Linked DNA regions of Homo sapiens. The protein of the gene in region 4 interacts with the protein of the main gene of each other region in a pairwise test. Each region holds a gene or a part of one and is shown on either strand. Other genes may lie near its edges.

What was found.
Region 1: the proteins of KIF9 (region 4) and ACBD4 interact in a two-hybrid assay, tested with the Homo sapiens proteins (one large-scale study listed by BioGRID and IntAct).
Region 2: the proteins of KIF9 (region 4) and RBM5 interact in a two-hybrid assay, tested with the Homo sapiens proteins (one large-scale study listed by BioGRID).
Region 3: the proteins of KIF9 (region 4) and ZNF566 interact in binary tests that used the Homo sapiens proteins (3 or more experiments, as listed by UniProt).
Region 5: the proteins of KIF9 (region 4) and JAKMIP2 interact in a two-hybrid assay, tested with the Homo sapiens proteins (one large-scale study listed by BioGRID).

Annotation. Positions count from the first base shown.
Region 1 is NC_000017.11:45,134,326-45,138,495, reverse strand, and holds the start of ACBD4 (acyl-CoA-binding domain-containing protein 4), read right to left. Parts: upstream 2,810-4,170; 5' UTR 2,543-2,809; exon of another isoform or gene 2,389-2,542; 5' UTR 2,352-2,388; coding exon 2,264-2,351; intron 1,997-2,263; coding exon 1,876-1,996; exon of another isoform or gene 1,805-1,875; coding exon 1,720-1,804; intron 1,478-1,719; coding exon 1,357-1,477; intron 1,129-1,356; coding exon 1,042-1,128; intron 775-1,041; coding exon of another isoform or gene 737-774; coding exon 666-736; intron 605-665; coding exon of another isoform or gene 584-604; coding exon 508-583; intron 221-507; coding exon of another isoform or gene 131-220; exon of another isoform or gene 1-130. UniProt on the Homo sapiens protein: Binds medium- and long-chain acyl-CoA esters and may function as an intracellular carrier of acyl-CoA esters.
Region 2 is NC_000003.12:50,091,909-50,095,423, reverse strand, and holds part of RBM5 (RNA-binding protein 5), read right to left. Parts: intron 3,382-3,515; coding exon 3,216-3,381; intron 1,705-3,215; coding exon 1,549-1,704; intron 1-1,548. UniProt on the Homo sapiens protein: Component of the spliceosome A complex. Binds to ssRNA containing the consensus sequence 5'-AGGUAA-3'. Regulates alternative splicing of a number of mRNAs.
Region 3 is NC_000019.10:36,479,556-36,483,070, reverse strand, and holds part of ZNF566 (zinc finger protein 566), read left to right. Parts: intron 1-3,515. UniProt on the Homo sapiens protein: May be involved in transcriptional regulation.
Region 4 is NC_000003.12:47,276,298-47,279,812, forward strand, and holds part of KIF9 (kinesin-like protein KIF9), read right to left. Parts: intron 1,083-3,515; coding exon of another isoform or gene 1,078-1,082; coding exon 985-1,077; intron 1-984. UniProt on the Homo sapiens protein: Essential for normal male fertility and for progressive motility of spermatozoa.
Region 5 is NC_000005.10:147,779,925-147,784,100, forward strand, and holds the start of JAKMIP2 (janus kinase and microtubule-interacting protein 2), read right to left. Parts: upstream 2,805-4,176; 5' UTR 2,535-2,804; coding exon of another isoform or gene 2,532-2,534; intron 1-2,531.

The DNA.
Region 1 (4,170 bases), on a different chromosome or scaffold from region 4:
TCTCTGGGCATCATTTTGTCATCTAAAAATTAGGAGAAGATGTCATTTCTCTCACAGGGCTGCTTGCTCAGAGGAAAAAAGGAGAAACTTTTCAAAATGTCCATACAGGACCTGACACACAACAGGAGTTCTAGAAGGGAAGAGGGCAGAACTCATTGTCTTCTGAGATTTCCAAACGGGGGAGTCCAGAGAATATGGATGACTTCCTGAGGCTGTGCAGCTGTAGGTGGGAGAACTGGGCTAGGACTCCCATCCCGCTGGCCTTACTCAGGACCTGCAGAGGGTGCAGACTCCTGGGTGCCCTTTGGGGAGAGGAGGGAGGGCGGGGACTTTGCCCATCCAGGCAGGTATCTGGCTGGTTGGCAGCCCTTCCTGGACAGAGGCTTCTCGCTCAGTGCCCAGCAATGGACTTTCAACTCTGCCCTAGGAAGGCAGCCAAGAGAAAGCCTGGGGTGCCAGGACCACGGGAAAGGGCAGAAGTGGGTGAGAGGTTGGGTAGGAGCTCACCTTTCTTTGTGGGGGGCACGGGGCTGTTCCTGGGATCACGCTTTCCTCCAGATGCTGCCCGCTGCTCTGTCCAAACCTGCTGAGATGAGTCAGAGAGCTGAGGGTGGGAGTGGGAGCACAGTGGGGTGGGAAAAGGGGGGAATGGGGACTGGGCTCACCAGCTCAGGCTCCAGCTGCTCCAGGGAATCACAGAAAACCTCGGAGTCCAGGTCCCTGGGTGAATGGGACTCTGTGGAGGGGTTGGTAGAGTTACTGCCCAGAGGGAAGCTGTGGAGGGAGAGCAGGAGTGTGCACTGGGCAGAAGCACCTGTTTAGGAGACACTAGAGATACGAGGCACTAGAGATATCAACACCTGAGGCACAGATGGGCGCCAGAAGCAAGGCCCTGGAACAGGAATCCTAGACCCCGGTCCCCACCTTTGGGAGCACAGGAAGTCTCAGTGTCTGTGGAGGGCACAGCGTGGCATCCAGCCTTCTCCCCTCCAGCCCTCCCCCAGCCTGAGTTTGGTCCACCCCTCCTGCTCAAGCACTAACCTGGGCTTGGGGGTGCCGGTTCCTTGGGGAGGCAGGGAGGCTCTGAAACAGCCCCAACATCTCCATTCACAACCTGCTCTTTCCAACCTGCCAAGACACAGCACCCAGAGGTGGGCCTGGGGAGAGGCTGGCACCTCCCAGTGTGATCAAGCCCCTACTCGTGATGAGCCGTGGATGCTGCCTGGGATCCACCTCTCGGGGGCTTGGGGGCCCTAACAGGGATGTCGCCTGGAGCCCTCTGCCCCCAGCCCACCTCAGCCTAGACCTAAGACGGTTCACTCAGCACTTTTGGAGCTCCCAGCCTGGGAGTCTGACCTGTGACCCTTCTCAGGAAGGTCTCTGGGGGCCTCGGCATGTCAGGGATCACCTGGTACAGGGGCTCGAAGTAACCAAACATGTCCTCTGCCACCTCACCCAGGGGCACTGTGTCGATCACCTGTAGGGGAGGGGGTCTGTTGGGGACGGAGTGGCCTCCTGTCCCTTCCTCCCTGCTCCTGCCCTGTCACACACCTCCACCCTGTGCCCAGTCAGGGGCCAAAGATAGGCAGGGTTGGGGGTAACATGAAGGTGGTGATTCCCATGAGGGGGTCCATGTGTAGGAAACGTAGTGGGGGTCAGAACTGGAAGGGTGAGGCCACCTGGCCAGGAGCCTGGGGACAGAGAACCTGCAGCCCTTACCTTCTGTGCCACCAGTTTCATTTCAGTGATGTAGGCAGACATGGCCTCCTCCCTGCTCATCTTGCCCAGACTGTTCCAGGCGTCCCTGGGGGCAGAGGGCTGTGAGAGGGCTGCTTGACAGCTGAGGCTTGTCTGCCCAGCCAGCAGGGAGCTCACCACTTATATCGTCCAATGGGGTCCCAGAACCCGGGCCGGGGGACCAGGCAGGGCCCCATGGTGGCCTGCTTGTAGTAACTGTAGAATCGCAGCATCTCTTCATAGGAGGGGCGGTAAGAACCTGGGCAGAGAGTTGGGAAGCCAGGGCAAAGCATCACTCCCAGCTCCAAGGGGCGGAGGGGCGGGAGAACCCTGCTTGGAAAGGGCAGAGGTGGTGATGGGTCCCACCCAGGGCATCTGGACTAGGATAGGAAGCGGAGGGAACCCCCAGGACAGCCCAGGCAGGGGCTTGTCTGCAAAAACTGCAGTGATCAGGACCATTCTTTCTTCAGAGTCAGACCCCAGGCGTCCTGAATGCGAGTCCAAATGCGAGTCCCCGCAGCCTCACCGTTCTTGGGCAGGTTCTGGATGACGCTCACTGCAGCCTGGAACTGTTTCTGGCAGTCGGGCTCTGGGCTTTCTTTCTCGGTGCCCATGCTGCTGCGAGCCCTGGGGCCCTACTTTTGAGCGACTCTGCAAGAAGCAGCCTTCGTGTGAGGGGGCCTCCAGGGTCCCCCCGGCACCATAAGCCAAGGATTCACTTCCCAGAGGGGCAAACTAAGCTCTTTAGAGGCCTCAGACACCCTGGGAGGTCAGAAGTTGTGGTTGAGGAGCCTCCTTTTCCTACCTCAAGGCAGTGTGGTGGGGTCAGGGTCGCCAGGTGGCGAGGCAGGTGGCGAGGGCCTCAGTGCCAGATGTGTCCGTCCCCAGATGCGCCTCCTTTAGGTGCACATCTCCAACTCCCGAACAGGTGGAGAAACAAGATAGGAGTACTCAGGGCGGGGCGAACAGTCTCCCACCCTGGCCGCCTGCACCTTGGCCCAGCGTGTGCCCCGCGGCGCCCACTGCCAGGACACCTGGGTCCTCTCTCGCCACCACCCCGCGGCTTCCTACTGACCCCGGGGTCCAGCAGGGCCGGGATGGCGACGCAGATCGAGGGGGGGAATTTAGGCCAATGAGAGAGCCTGTTTCACATTCGGCTTACCTACCTCAACCATTCAGCACAGCTCTTTCAAGATCATGCAAATAGTTTCTCAGAGCCTTTCCCAATCAGGCGGGGCTTAATCGAAGGGTCGGACTTCCCAGCCCGGGATGGCCAAGGCGGGCGGCAGCGCCCCCTGGTGCACATAGTGAAAGGTCGTGGCGTCCTAGCGCCCCCTGGTGGAAATCCGCATCTGTTCGCTGATATCCAGGCCTGGCCGATCCGAGGCAACCCACTCAGCTCTCTAGACACTTAGGCACTGGGGATTAAAAAAAGTCATGTCCTGTGGTCAGGTGTTCTAGAGGAAGGACATCACAGCTCAGTTTTGGAAGATGGTCGGGCACGGTGGCTCATGCCTGTAATCCCAGAACTTTGGGAGGCCAAGGCGGGCGGATCACCTGAGGTCAGGAGTTCGAGACCAGCCGGGCCAACATAGTGAAACCCCATCTCTACTAAAAATACACAAATTAGCCGGGCGTGGTGGCGCGCGCCTGTAATCCCAGCTACACGGGAGGCTGAGGCAGGAGAATCGCTTGAACCCGGGAGGTGGAGATTGCAGTGAGCCAAGATTGCCCCACTGCACTCCAGCCTGGGCGAGAGTGAGACTCCATCTCAAAAAAAAAAAAAGAGTAAGCAAAATGGACATCGCAGAATGATGGTTACCAGAGGCTGGGAAGGGTACTGGGGAGGGGGGGAAATGGGTACAAAAATACAGTTAGAATGAATGAGATCCAGTGTTCGGTAGCACAATACAACGATTATAGTTACCAATAATTTATTGTATCTTTTTATTTTGTTTATTTTATTTTATTTATTTATTTTTTTGAGACGGAGTCTCACTCTCTCCCGGGCTGGAGTGCAGTGGCGTGATCTCGGCTCACTGCAATCTCCGCCTCCCGGGTTCACGCCATTCTCCTGCCTCAGCCTCCCGAGCAACTGGGATTACAGGCGCTCGCCACCACGCCCAGCTAATTTTTTGTATTTTTTAGTAGAGACGGGGTTTCACCATATTAGCCAGGATGGTCTCGATCTCCTGACCTCGTGATCCGCCGACCTCGGCCTCCCAAAGTGTTGGGATTACAGGCGTGAGCCACCGCGCCCGGCCTATTGTATCTTTTTAAATTAATTATTTTAAAAACAATTTTTGTAGAGGCAGAAGTCTCATTATGTTGCCCAGGCTGGTCTTCATTCAATACCTGGCCTCAAGTGATCATCCCACCTCTGCCTCCCAAAGTGCTGGGATTACAGGCGTGAGCCACCGCATCCGGCCAATT
Region 2 (3,515 bases), 2.8 Mb from region 4:
TAGTTCAATTTTCAACAAATAAAAGGGTGGCCAGATTATAAAGAAAATTAGGTATTTACCAATCATCCTCATCTAATAAGTAACTAATTCAATAAAAATATATTGATTATCTTCTAGGAGCTAATGAAGACAGAAGACCTGCTCCCTGTGGTTAAAGACATTTAGAAAACTCATACATTGAGCTTCAAAGCCTAAATATGGTAATTTACTTCTTTTTGTTTTTGAGACAGGGTCTTGTTCTGTCACCCAGGCTGGAGTGCAATGGCGTGATCTTGGCTCATTGTAAACTCCGCCTCCCAGGTTCAAGCCATTCTCCTGTCTCAGCACCTCCCCAAGTAGCTGGGACTACAGGTATGCACCACCACACCTAGCTAATTCTTGTATTTTTAGTAGAGACAGGGTTTCACCATGTTGGCCAGGCTGGTCTCAAATTCCTGACCTCAAGTGATCCACCCGCCTCGACCTCCCAAAGTGCCTGGGATTACAGGCATGAGCCACCGCGCCTGGCCAAAATGGTAACTTACTTCTGAACCTAGTTCAGTGAACTTTTCCCTAAAGACAGAAAAATATTTCACTAGCTGAGATAGATACAGGTTGAGCAACCCTAATCCAAAAATTTGAAATGCTCCAAAATCTGAAATTTTCTGAGCACTAACATGACACAACAAGTGGAAAATTCCACCCCTGACCTTATTTGAAAGGTCACAGACAAGAGGGCAGTCAAACCTTTTAGTCCAGGCAACATACTTAGCCCAGCCTGGCTCTACAAAAAATAAATTAGCTGGGTGTGGTGGCATGCACCTGCCAGCTACTGAAGTAAAAAGATCACTTGAGCCCAGGAGTTTGAGGCTGCAGTGAGCTATGATTGCATTGCTATACTCCAGACTGGGTGACAATGAGACCCTGCCTGTAAAAAACAGAAACAAAAATATCACAAACAAAAAAACAAAGCACACATTGTTTTGTGTATAAAATTATTTAAAGTGTTGGCCGGGCAAGGTGGCTCACGCCTGTAATCCCAGCACTTTGGGAGGCCGAGGCGGGTGGCAGGAGATGGAGACCACAGTGAAACCCCGTCTCTACTAAAAATACGAAAAAAGTTAGCCGGGTGCGGTGGCGGGCGCCTGTAGTCCCAGCTACTCAGGAGGCTGAGGCAGGAGAATGGCGTGAACCCGGGAGGCAGAGCTTGCAGTGAGCCGAGGTTGTACCACTGCACTCCAGCCTGGGTGACAGAGCAAGACTCTGTCTTAAAAAAAAAAAAAAAAAATTATTTAAAGTGTTGTATAAAATTACCTTTGGCATGTATAAGACATATACAAAATACAAATGAATTTCATGTTTAGACTTATGTAAATGCAAATGTTTAAACTTATGTAAATGCAAATATTAAAAAAAAATATCAAAACAGTTCTGGTCCCAAGCATTTTGGATAAGGGATACTCAACCTCTATTGGCTTAAGATAAAACAATAGCATGAGAAAATAATGGTAGAAGCTCAAAGTTCATTGTGCCTACTGACTGCTGGTTATAACTGTCATTTCCCCTTACATCGCTCTCTGTGATGGTGATGGGAAGGCCGCGCAGCATGATGGTCTTGCTCTCCCTCTCGTCACTGATGTCATGCCTATAGTCGTGCTCACCATAGTCACCATCTGAATGGTAGCCATCTTCGGATCGGTCACTGTTCCTTCTTTCACGCTCTCTCTGAGTTACAATAAACAAAATCACAATTAACATCACCCTGTACTCTTTGAAACAGACCCTCCACTCCTAGAAATTATCCTTAGCAGGAAGTGTACAGAGATTACACAAGCACTCCATGGTAATGTTCACTGCAATTTTTTTTTTTTGAGACAGGGGTCTCACTATGTTACCCAGGCTGGTCTGAACTCCTGGCCTCAAATGACCCTCCTGCTATGGCCTCCCAAAGTGCTGGGATTATAGGCACACCCAGCCTGCTGTGTTTTCTTTTTTTTTTTTTTTGAGACAGTTTCACTCTTATTGCCCAGACTGGAGTGCAGTGGTGCGATGATCTCTGCTCACTGCAACCTCTGCCTCCTGGGTTCAAGCAATTCTCCTCCTTCAGCCTCCCGAGTAGTTGGGACTATAGGCACTTGCCACCACGCCCAGCTAATTTTTTGTATTTTTAGTAGAGACAGGGTTTCACCATGTTAGCCAGGATGGTCTCAATCTTCTGACCTCATGATCCGCCCGCCTCGGCCTCCCAAAGTGCTGGGATTACAGGCGTAAGCCACCGTGCCGGCCTTCTGGTTTTTTTTTTTTTTGAGACAGAGTCTCCCTCTGTCGTCCATGCTGGAGTGCAATGGCATGATCTCAGCTCACTGCAACCACTGCCTCCCAGGCTCAAGCAATTCTCGTACCTCAGCCTCCTGAGTAGCTGAGGTCGCACCACTGCACTCCAGCCTGGGTGACAAGACTAAAAAGCTGTCTCAAAAAAAAAAAAAAAAAAAAAAAAAAAAGATATATCAAGATGACCAAAACAACAACTTATATTTATTATTTTTCATTATTATTATTTTAAAGACAGGGTCTCCCTATGGTGCCCAGGCTGGCCTCTAACTCCTGGGCTCAAGGGATCCTCCTGCCTCGGCCTCCCAAATTGTTGGGATTACAGGTGTGAGCCACTGTGCCTGGCCAACAACTTATATTTATCATTCATTTCAAAACACAGAACTAATATGTTATCATAACCCCATTGTTTCATCTTTAAAATGGGAATAACACCTACCTTATCAGGTTGTACTGAGACCTAAATGAATTCATGAAGTCAAGTGCTCAAAAGTACATGGTGATCCCTATGTAAACCCTGGCCATTATTTCTTTTCTTTTTTTTTTTTTTTTGAGATGGAGTCTTGCTTTGTCACCCATGCTGGAGAGCACTGATACAATCTCAGCTCACTGCAACCTCCGCCTCCCAGGTTTCAAGTGATTCTCTTACCTCAGTCTCCCAAGTAGCTGGGATTACAGGCGCCCACCACCCCACTCAGCTAATTTTTGTATTTTTAGTAGAGACGGGTTTTACTATGTTGGCCAGACTGGTCTTAAACTCCTGACCTCAAGTGATCTGGCCGCCTTGGCCTCCCAAAGTGATAGGATTATGGGAAGGGGCCACTGGACCTGGCTGCCTGGCTGTTATTTCTATTACTATAAGGCTCAGAGTGTTTTGGGGGGTTATACAGCCGCTGGTCACTCACCTCTGGACTGTCATAGTCTCGGTAGTCATCATATCTATCACCCCTCCGATCATCACTAGATCTTTTGTAATCTGAGTCCCTCCGCCTGCTTCGGGATTCACGCTCATCACGGTCATCCCTGTCTATGATGGAACCGTATCTTCCACTACGCTCTGTTCTACTCACTCTGCCAGGGAAAATAATTTTCATTCTAAAGTCAGTCACATTTTGTACCTTTAAAAGACATAGTTAAAAATACACACGGCCCACAGATCAGTTTATAAGATAATCCAAATAGTTTAAAGTGTTAAAAAGTATTAC
Region 3 (3,515 bases), on a different chromosome or scaffold from region 4:
TGTTGCTCATGGCAATCTTCAGAATATCTACATTCTCATGGTACTGATTCAGTCATACACCCAGGATTATGCAAAATACACAGGTATCTGTGTGTTCCCTTGACCTTAGGAAACCTGAATTTTTTATAATGGATAGTTAGAATGCCTACCCTTTGCTGTAGAAGGAGACCGACTCTGTCTTCCAAGGCTGTTCACTGTATAAACAACTTGGTAAAATAGTGCAGAACAAAAACACTTAGTACCTCTTCTTGCAAGATACGCAGAAACATGCAAGACCCATGGAGAATTGTCTCCCATCAAATTTGGCCATTTCCTTGTTACTTCATTTTCCAACAGAGAGAAACCTGCTTCTCAGAATCAATAATTAGCTCTATCCTAGAATACATGCAAATTAGTTCAGAGTTGCCAACCTGGACCTGTGTAAAAAGTATTTAGTAACTACAGTAGAGAATCTCTGTGTAGCTCTTTTTCTTTAAGCTTATAGTATATAGTAAACAAACATCTTCCAAAGTTACTCAATTTAGTTCTTTTCTTTGCCACTCTTTTCAGTATGTTTTTTTTTTTTCTTACATTTTTCTTACATTTAAGGATCATTTGTTGCATTTTGGGTTCCCCCACATCCTGGTTGATTGTAGCAGGCTACACTATTTTGAATGTGAAAACATTCGCAGGGGACAGTGGCTCACTCCTGTAATCCCAACACTTTGGGAGGCCGAGGCCGGCGAATCACGAGGTCAGGAGATCAAGACCATCCTGGCTAACACGGTGAAACCCCGTCTCTACTAAAAATACAAAAAATTAGCCGGGCGTGGTGGCGGGCGCCTGTAGTCCCAGCTACTGGAGAGGCTGAGGCAGGAGAATGGCGTGAACCTGGGAGGCGGAGCTTGCAGTGAGCCGAGATCGCGCCACTGCACTCCAGCCTGGGCGACAGAGCGAGACTCCGTCTCAAAATAAATAAATAAATAAATAAAAATTAACTTAGTTCCCACAGACTCCTTGTATATATTCAACTTCATTCGTTTCTGCTTTATCCTTGCTGTGTTTCTTTTGCACAAATGAAGAGTTACCTATATTCTTTTTACATTAAAGATAGCATTCTCTAGGCACTCTTTTGTACATTGTTTCTTTCTCTTAATGATACATTCTGGATAACACTCAGGCAGTTAAAGAGATATTCATAATTCTTTTCTAATTGTTACATAATACTGCAGCCTGTGGATTTATCATAGTTTATTGAACCGCTTTCCTACGTATGGATATTTAGGTCATTTACAATATTTTGTTACTAGAAACAGTGCTGCAATAACCTTGTATATATGTATTTTTCTATTGCTGGAGGAGTATCTTTAGGGTAGATTCCTAGAAGCGGTATTGCTGGGTCAAAAGGTAAGTGCTTTGTAGTTTTGTTAAGTATTGCAAAATTCCTCTCTAGAACTGTTGTACCAGTTTTTATTCCTACTTGCTGTGTATGAGCATGTCTGTTTCCCTTCACAGCCCACCTAACAGAATATGTTGTCATGTTTTTTAGTTTTCACCAGTCTAATAGATGAGAAATAGTACCTCAGTGTTCTTTTCTTTTTTTTTTTTTTTTTTTTTTCCCGAGACAGTGTCTTGCTCTGTTGCCGGGGCTGGAGTGCAGTGGCGCGATCTCGGCTCACTGCAACCTCCGCCTCCTGGGTTCAAGTGATTCTCCTGCCTCAGCCTCCTGAGTAGCTGGGACTACAGGCGCGTGCCGCCACGCCCAGCTAATTTTTGTATTTTTGGTAGAGATGGGGTTCCACCATGTTGGCCAGGCTGGTCCCAAATTCCTGACCTCAGGTGATCCACCAGACTCGGCCTCCCAAAGTGCTGAGATTACAGGTATGAGCCCCTGTGCCCAGCCCTCATTGTTGTTTTCTTATTTCTCTCATTATGAGTGTGTTTGAACATTTCAGAGTCTTTTAAAAGATTGCCTGTTTATGTCTTTCCCCATTTTTGTAGCAGATATTTATTTAGTACTTTGTCTTTTATGACTAGTGCTTTTTTTTGAAACGAAGTCTCACTCTTGTTGCCCAGGCCGGAGTTCAGTGGTGTGATCTCAGCTTACTGCAACCTCTGTCTCCTGGGTTCAAGCGATTTTCCTGCCTCAGCCTCCTGAGTAGCTGGGATTACAGGCGTCTGCCACCATGCCCGGCTAATTTTTTTTGTATTTTTAGTAGAGACAGCATTTCAACATGTTGGCCAGGCTGGTCTCGAACTCCTGACCTCAGGTGTTCCGCCTGCCTTGGTGGGCCTTGGCCTCCCAAAGTGCTGGGATTACAGGCATAAGCCACCACGCCTGGCCCCGAAGCTTTTAAACATTCACATTCACACTTAAGTCTGTGATCCCTCTTAAATTAATTCTTATGTATGGGGTAAAGGTTAATTTTTTTTTTTCCAGTTGGGTGCCTAGTTGTTTCAGCACTGTTTATTGAAAAGATTGTCCTTGCCCATCTAAACTGCATGGAGGCTGGGCAAGGTGGCTCACGCCTGTAATCCCAGCACTTTGGGAGGCCGAGGCAGGCAGATCACCTGAGGTCAGGAATTTGAGACCAGCCTGGCCAACATGGTGAAACCCTGTCTCCACTAAAAATACAAAAATTAGCCGGGTGTGGTGGCAGCCACCTGTAATCCCAGCTACTCCAGAGGCTGAGGCAGGAGAATTGCTTGAACCTGGGAGGCAGAGGTTACAGTAAACCAAGATCTTGCCACTGCACTCCAGCCTGCGTGACAGAGTGAGACTCTGTCTCAAAAAAAAAAAAAAGAAAAAAAAATTGCATGGAGTCTTTGTCATAAATCAGGTGACAGTATATACATGTGGTTATGTGGCTCTCTTTCTGGACTCTATATTCTATTTGGTTTTATTGTTTTGTCTGTACTGCTGTCTTGAAATCTGTAGTTTTAGTCCTCCTACTTTTTTTCTTTTCCAAGCTATCTCGGCTATTATAAGCTCTTCTAATTTCCAAATAAATGTTAGAATCAACTTGCTAATTTTTACCTTATTCCCCCCAAAGCCTTGCTGGGGTTTTCTTTACAAATATATGTGTTCATTTTGGGGCCTGATGCAGTGGCTCACACCTGTAATCCCAGCACTTTGGGAGTCCAAGGCTGGAGGATTGCTTGAGCCCAAGAGTTTAAGACAAGCCTGGGCAACACAGTGAGACCCTGTCTCTACCAAAACAAAAACAAAAACAAAAAAACAACTAAAACCAAGCAAACACGCAAACAAACAAAGAAACAAAACCCCAAACATTTAGCTGGACTTGATGGCGTGCTTCTACTCCTCGCTTCTCAGGAGGCTGGGGTGGGAGAATCCCTTGAGCCCCACAGGTTGAGGCTACAGCGAGCTTTGATCGTGCCACGGCACTCCGACCTGGGTAACAAAGCAAGACCCTGATTCAAAAACAAAAACAAAAACTGTGTTCATTTTGGGAGAATTGACATCAATATTCAATCTATAGTACATATGGTATATGTCGACATTTGTTAAGATCCTT
Region 4 (3,515 bases):
GTAATCCCAGCACTTTGGGAGGCCGTGGCAGGTAGATCACCTGAGGTCAGGAGTTCCAGACCAGCCTGGCCAACATGGCAAAACCCCGTCTCTACTAAAAATACAAAAATTAGCCAGGCATGGTGGCACGTGCCTGTAATCCCAGCTACTAGCAGGGCTGAGGCAGGACGATCGCTTGAACCTGGGAGGCGGAGGTTGCAGTGAGCCAAGATTGTGCCACTGTACTCCAGCCTGGGCAACAGAGTGGGACTCTGTCTCAAAAAAAAAAAAAAAAAAAGAAAAGAAAGAAAGAAAGACTTGGTCCACTCACACATTAAATGCTCTGTGCTTCTGTGTTCGCTGAAAACCATGTCCAGCAGGACACATTTGATAGGGCTGCATGTGAGCTCTTTTCTGACCGCTAGGACCTGCGAGGCTTGGGCAGTTTGCCCTTGAATTTTTCCTTTGAAGAATGTCTCAATGCTGCCCAGAGTAGGCCCATAATTGTTTGCTGAATGAAAATATCTAACACTCTTACACTGTCCTAAGCCTTCAGAAGCATTCTCAGGGTGAGGATATAGGGACGGATATATCTTTCCACTTCTCTTGATAAGTATTTCTCCAGCTGTTTTGATAAGCTAAACAGTAATGAACTCAAGATATTCTTACTGCACCCCATGGGCGATTATACAATGACAGATCAATCATTAGAAAGCTTTATGAATGTGAACAAATGTCAATTCTTCTGTGTCAGATACGAGGGTAAAGGTAAACTTATTAATTTATTAAAGGTAAAATTATTAAAAGACAATTAACGATGGGATTTTATTAATTTCTTCATTAGCAGTGTGTGAGGGGGTGGTTTGGATTTGATGGGCTCTAGAGTCCATTGGATCCTGTCCAATTCTGTCTTGGTCCTTCAAAGGTTGCTTGGAAATACGGTCACACTATAGCAAGGTGGGACAGAGAGGCCCAGTCAGTTGAAGGCAAACACATCGCACTTACTCTTTTGTCATCTCCGTATCTGATCATTTCATGAGCAAAGTCATCGGTGGGTTTGACACGGACAAATGCATGAACTTTTTTCCTAGTACCCATTCTAGCTAAAAAGAAGGGAACAATGAAATTTTGAGTAGTCATTATCAAATAACAAGTAGAGGAGAGGGGTCATTCATTAAGAAGATCAGAAAAGAGTGACGAGCAGTCCATTTTTCCCTCTCTCCCTGAAAGCCAGTTTTCCTTTTCACCCCTCAGCATTTCAGTGTTCTACCCACAAGACACTGCTCAACAAATACACGCACTTTCTGCTTCACAGACTGCTTTGCCATTTTCCACCAATGACCCCAGAGAGACTGAAATACAAAGTGAAAAGAATGCTTCCTTTAGTGGCCTAATCTTAGATGTCATTTCTAGAAATGTTCTGCAACTAAGATGATGAGTCCACTTATGCTTTCCTTCATTTATTATATTTTCTTCTAAAATACTTACTATGAAATACATTAAAACTAATTTTCTTTTCATTAACTTATCTTGCTTCAGATACAGCATCCTCTTCTCCAGTAGACTAACTAGATCAGAAATAGATGACCCAGACGTATATTTGGTCCATAATAAATATTCTTTCTTCTCTTACTATATTGAGAAAAAATATCACAGACAGTCCCCTACCTCCTCTTGCTCTCCTAAAACCTAACTATATTCTCATCATTTTCTTTCAGTGTGTGTGTGTGTGTGTATGCGTGTGCATATACATATATATAGTAGTATAAATAAAGGAAGACATAGGACATATATACATACATTTTTTTTTTTTGAGACAGAGTCTCACCCTGTCACCCAGGTTGGAGTGCAGTGGTGCTATCATGGCTCAATGCAGCCTTGACCTCCCAGGCTTAAGTGATCCTCCTGCCTCAGCCTCCCCAGTAGCTGGGACTACAGGTGCGTACCACTGTGCCCGGCTAGTTTTCTTACATTTTTTTTGCAGAGATGGCGTCTTACTATGTTGCCTAGGCTGGTCTTGAACTCCTAGCCTCAAGTGATCCTCCTATCTTAGACTTCCAAAGTGCTGGGATTACAGGCATACCCAGCCGATGTTCAATATTTTTTAAAAAATTAACATTTATTTCATTGTTTTATTTTTGGAGACAAGGGTTTCTTTATGTTGTCTAGGCTAGCCTTTAACTTCTGAGCTCAAGTGATTCTCCCATCTCAACCTTCCAAGTAGCTAAGACTACAGGCGCATGGCTTGGCTTTAAAAAAAAACTAACTTTTGGCTGGGTGCAATGGCTCATACCATAATCTTAGCACTTTGGGAGGCCGAGGTGGGCAGATCCCTTGAGGCCAGGAGTTTGAAACCAGCCTGGGCAACATGGCGAAAACCCATCTCTATAAAGAATACAAAAATTAGCCAGGCAGCCAGGTGCGGTGGCTCAGGCCTGTAATCCCAGCACTTTGGGAGGCCGAGGCAGGTGGATTACCTGAGGTCAGGAGTTCAAGACCAGCCTGGCCAACATGGTGAAATGCCATCTCTACTAAAAATACAAAAATTAGCTAGTTGTGGTGGCAGACGCCTGTAATCCCAGCTACTCAGAAGGCTGAGGCAGGAGAATCGCTTGAATCTGGGACGTGGAGGGTGCAGTGAGCTGAGATCGCGCCATTGCACTTCAGCCTGGGCGACAGAGAGGGACTCCATCTCCAAAAAATAAATAAATGAATAAATAAATAAAATAAATAAATTACCAAGCATGGTGGTGCATGCCTATAGTCCCAGCTACTCAGGAGGCTGAGGTGGGAGAATCACTTGAGCCTGGGGAAGCTGAGGCTGCAGTTAGCTTTGATCATACCACTGCACTCCAGCCTAGGTGACAGAGTGAGACCATATCTCAAAAAAAAAAAAAAAAAAAAAACTAACGTGGGCCAAGTGCGTTGGCTCTTGCCTGTAATCCCAGCACTTTGGGAGGCTGAGGATGGCAGATTACCTGAGGTTAGGAGTTCAAGACCAGCCTGGCCAACATGACGAAACCCTGTTTCCACTAAAAAAAAATACAAACATTAGCTGGGTGTAGTGGCAAGCGCCTGTAATCTCAGCTACTCAGGAGGCTGAGACAGGAGAATTGCTTGAATCTGGAGGGTGGAGGTTGCAGTGAGCCAATGTCATGCCACTGCACTCCAGCCTGGGTGACAGAGCAAGCTCAGTCTCAAAAAAAAAAAAAAATCAAAAAATCTAAGTAACTTTTAAGATGTTAACCATAAAAACCCCTCATGTATAACAGGGACTACTTTTAATTAGATTATCTTGCTTTTTTAAAAAGTACATTAAATAATGGTAATATTTTATTTTATTTTATTTTTTTTTTTTGAGGCAGAGTCTCGCTCTATCACCCAGGTTGGAGCGCAGTGGCGCCATCTCAGCTCACTGCAAGCTCCGCCCCCCAGGTTCACGCCATTCTCCTGCCTCAGCCTCCCGAGTAGCTGGGACTACAGGCGCCCGCCACCAAGCCCCGCTAATTTTTCTGTATTTTTAGTAGAGATGGGGT
Region 5 (4,176 bases), on a different chromosome or scaffold from region 4:
GAACTTCTACATTTGCATATTTCTCATCTTCATAATTCCTCATAAAGTTGAAGCCCATTGACTACATTTGAGGTTCCAAAAAATAGCAATAAGCAATGTCCTGTGCTTATGCCCCATGCTTAGCTTATCTGAAACAAACGATTGCCATATTTCATTTTTCTCTTCTCTAAATGAAATGATCCTAGCTTTTAAAAATCTTTCCTCAGAGAGTTCAACTTCTAGTGCTTGAAACACACTTCACTTTTCTATGGCCCCTTAGCAAAGGCCATATAATTGTCTTAAATAGTGGGGTCAAAAGCTAGACCTGTATTTCTATCAGGGTAATAGCTGACACATAGCTGAAACAGGCTATCTACAAGGAGTTTTAAGCACATGGCCTAAGGGATTTGCCTCTGTTCAAACTGTACCAACTTTGCCTATAAAACCACCTCCAAATGAAAACTCAAAAAAAAGAAACAAAAACAAAGCCCCAGGATATCTGCTTTCATTGCATGAAATGGGGTCAACTAGTACAAATCTTAATTTTTTAAGTGTGCTATAGGCATATCTAACATTTTAATTTTTGGAAGTCAAGTGTTATCACTAAAAGATTCAGGATGCAATGTGTTATACAATTTGTTATAACATACAAGCCCAGTACCTCTTTCCTTGCCCTACTTCATATAGTTGTTAAAATTAGGCACAAAGTAGCATGAGTTTACAAAGCTATGGATCTATAATATATAACATGCTATGAGCACATGCACAATTGAGTCACCAAGGGCCCTTCTCATGTATAAACCAAATAGAACAATTATTCTCAGCAAAATTAAACTATAAACCTGGTTCAAATACATGTGAAAATTATAAATGTGGGGGGTGTATGTAGAATCAGATGCAAGACTAAAGACCCAAACAATTGTTATTTTACATTGTAAAAAATGTCTGTACTGACAATGATATTGTTAGAGAAGAGAATAATGGATAAAACTATAATAGCCCATGTGGTAAATGTAATATTACTAATACACTTTACCTACATAATTTTTTCTGGCTTTAATTCAATGAAATCCATTATCCTGGGCGGGAATGGAACCTCCTCATCTCACGCATCTTTAGTCTCCTGAACTGCCTTAAAGCCTTGACATAATAAAAGGTCAAGCAGATCCCAGTAAGCATTTGTAAATTACAATAGACCCCCATTTCAGCTACAAGCCACACATTCTCCTGCTCGCTTTGCTCACTCTCTGGTTTCATTTCATTGTATAAGCAGACTAATTTGGAAACGGCTGGGCTAGGGTGCTTGGGAATACCTAGATTTTCAAAACAATCCTACTTTCCTACTTAATTATTTACAGAAGGAGACCCTTAATACAACATCTGAGAGAACTGTGAAATGGTTCCTGGATACTGAAGGAATGAACATCAGATAGCAGCACTATTAAATAAAATGAATACATTTCACCTTCCAGCTTAGCTGTGCTTCCTGGGACACAAGGCACAAACATGAAAAGGTTGGGGTGGCATTTCAAGAAAACTGATTTGCTTCAACATTGATTTGGTAAGATGCTAGACACAAAATAATACCACAAACCGCCTCCCATTCCCATCATTGTAAATTCAGAGTCCTCAATATCATCCCCCACAAACCCAATTAAAAATAAAGAGGCAGGCTACAAATTTGCATCTAGTTCTATGACACAGATCAAACGATAGGCATCTGTTCCAATCGGTCACAATGAAACTAAGGGACAATAACCAGAGTAAATTTCACATTAATCCAAATAAAGCCAATGAATAATAATATAAACCAGAAGCATAGTTTCAAAAACATGCAATTACTTCCAGGCATGCAAGGACATATGTAACCCATAAAAATGGTTGCAAAGCACACCCTACATATAAATATGCTTCATAAATGCAATATAAATGCTAAGTGACATGTGTATATATGATCTGTATATCCATAAGATATACATGTGTAAGTTCACAGTCAAATCTACGTATAAAATAAAACTGGGTCTTGCAAATGATTTCTCAACAAGAGTATATTAGAATATAAAATAAAATGTCAAATTCTGGGGCCACTTTTTCTAAGCAATCAATAAAATAAGCAAAACCACCTTATAATGAGTCTGGTAAGCTTATGAGACACCAAATGTATTTCTGAAGAAGGCCCAACCCTGTATGTGAGAGCTGCAAATGAAATGATTCCTTTCAATAACACCCTCTTCTTGTTGTTAGCTCTTTTTCCAACCCCTGATGCTGTTGCTAAGCTTAGGAAAAAAGGCACCAAGTGGCTCAGTCTGCATTCTGAGCCAGTTAGAGATAAAATCAGAACACCATTTTTTTTTTTTAAACACAAGAGGTTGTCTTCTCACTTCTCTCTTCCTGGCAAGCTTCCTCTCCCTCCATCCTCATCTCTGTCTCCACATCTCCCCCTTCTAGTCTGAGGCACGGGAGTCATTGTTCAAGTTCAGGCCAGAAATGTATACACAGGTCAAATAAGAACACTCTAAACCAAGAAGGGAGCCCTACTGTTTCCTACTCACCATGCTGAGACCCGGAGAAGCTGTTTAAAGGAGGGAGAGATGCAAACTGAATCCATTTTCCTTGTGACCGAGTCGGATGCAGCCTCCGAACCCAACATCAGCAGTGGCTGCCGGTTTTTTTTTTCCCTCTGTCTCTGGTTGGCGATGGTGCGAATAGGAACCACCCTTCCAGCCCCACTAGAGTATCAGCAATAGAGGCGGCGGCGGCGGCAGCAGCAGCAGCAGCAGCATCACCAGTTGGGCCTCCTCCCTCTCGGAGGATGGGGTGAGCTCGGAAGCAGCCAGGAACTTGCAGCAGACACCTCCTCTGGCTCCTCCTCTCTCTCTCCCCCTCCCCCAGTGCCCCACCCCTGCTGCGGTAGAGGCTGCTGGCCCGGCAGCTGCTGGTTGCCATGGCAATGACCAATGATAAGCGACCAAGCTCAGGGGGAGGGGAGATGGGCGAAGCAAGCTGCAGGGTCTGGAGGGGAGTGAATTTGTGCTGCTGCCCTCTAGGATGCTCTTGATGTCTCCTACCCTGAACTCCAGGTCTTTTTAAAAATGGGGCAAGGGGGGCTAGGCACGGGGAGAGAATAATTAAAATTTAATTGAAATCTAGATAGAAACATACCAACGGCTTAGCTATTTTTTGCATTTTCTGTGGTTTTCCAATAAAAAGTATGAAATTTATTATCAGAAAAATAACAACAAATGTGGAGAAAATTATGTCGCATAATAGCAGATTATTATTACTTCCAAACGTGTTCGTCCTTTATAGCATCTTTTACTCAATACCAGGCAACAAGGTTTTTAGAAAGCAAACGGAGTGGCTGGACTTTGTAATAAATTAAGAGTCTGGTTGATTCCTTTGCACTACTCCCGGCTTGTTCTCAGGTGAGTTACTTGGTTTCACTGTTTTTCCAGCTACCCTTCTGAACAGGACTTGGAGGTAATTGACACATCCCTGAGGAAAAGTAAGTTTGGATAGAGACCGAAATTCCTTTCAACAACCACTATTCTCGGTAGCACAAGTTGGTGGACAGTTCCCAATCTTTTTAGTGTCAAACTCCTGGAGCATTCAATTTCCTGCAGGCAATTCCTGTCGTTTTCATGGATGCCTTTTTGGAGTTCCGAAGTCAGTTGGCAGTCAGGGTGGTGGGCAGGAAAAGGGGGAAGTGAAATCAGCAATGTCCAGTTCTAGGCGAGTTCTGTTTCTAACTATAAATTATAGATGACACCAGTATTTATCTCGTGGAGGGGTTGTAAAGATTGAATGAGATAATGCACTAAAAGCACTTGGCATATAGTAAGTGTACAATAAATATTTACTATTAGCAGCATAGTAGTACATTGCAGCCATCTCTTAATCTAAGGGTTTAAGGGGAATAACATGGCAATTTCAGGTAGGAGAAAAAATTAAGATGAGAAAATCCAAAGTACGTAATAACCATGATGATGATGGCAAAGACAGAGAGGCCCTAAGAGATTAAGTGTTCTCTACATCTTGATATTTGAGGACATTGTAAATCTCAGAGGAGTTAGATACATTTCCCAAATTCACAACTGATAAACGACAGAACCGGAATCAAAATGGACTCTTCTAACACTTACATTTGCTCTCCTAACCACCACACTTTTCTGCCACTCCTCCATAAAATGGAAATAA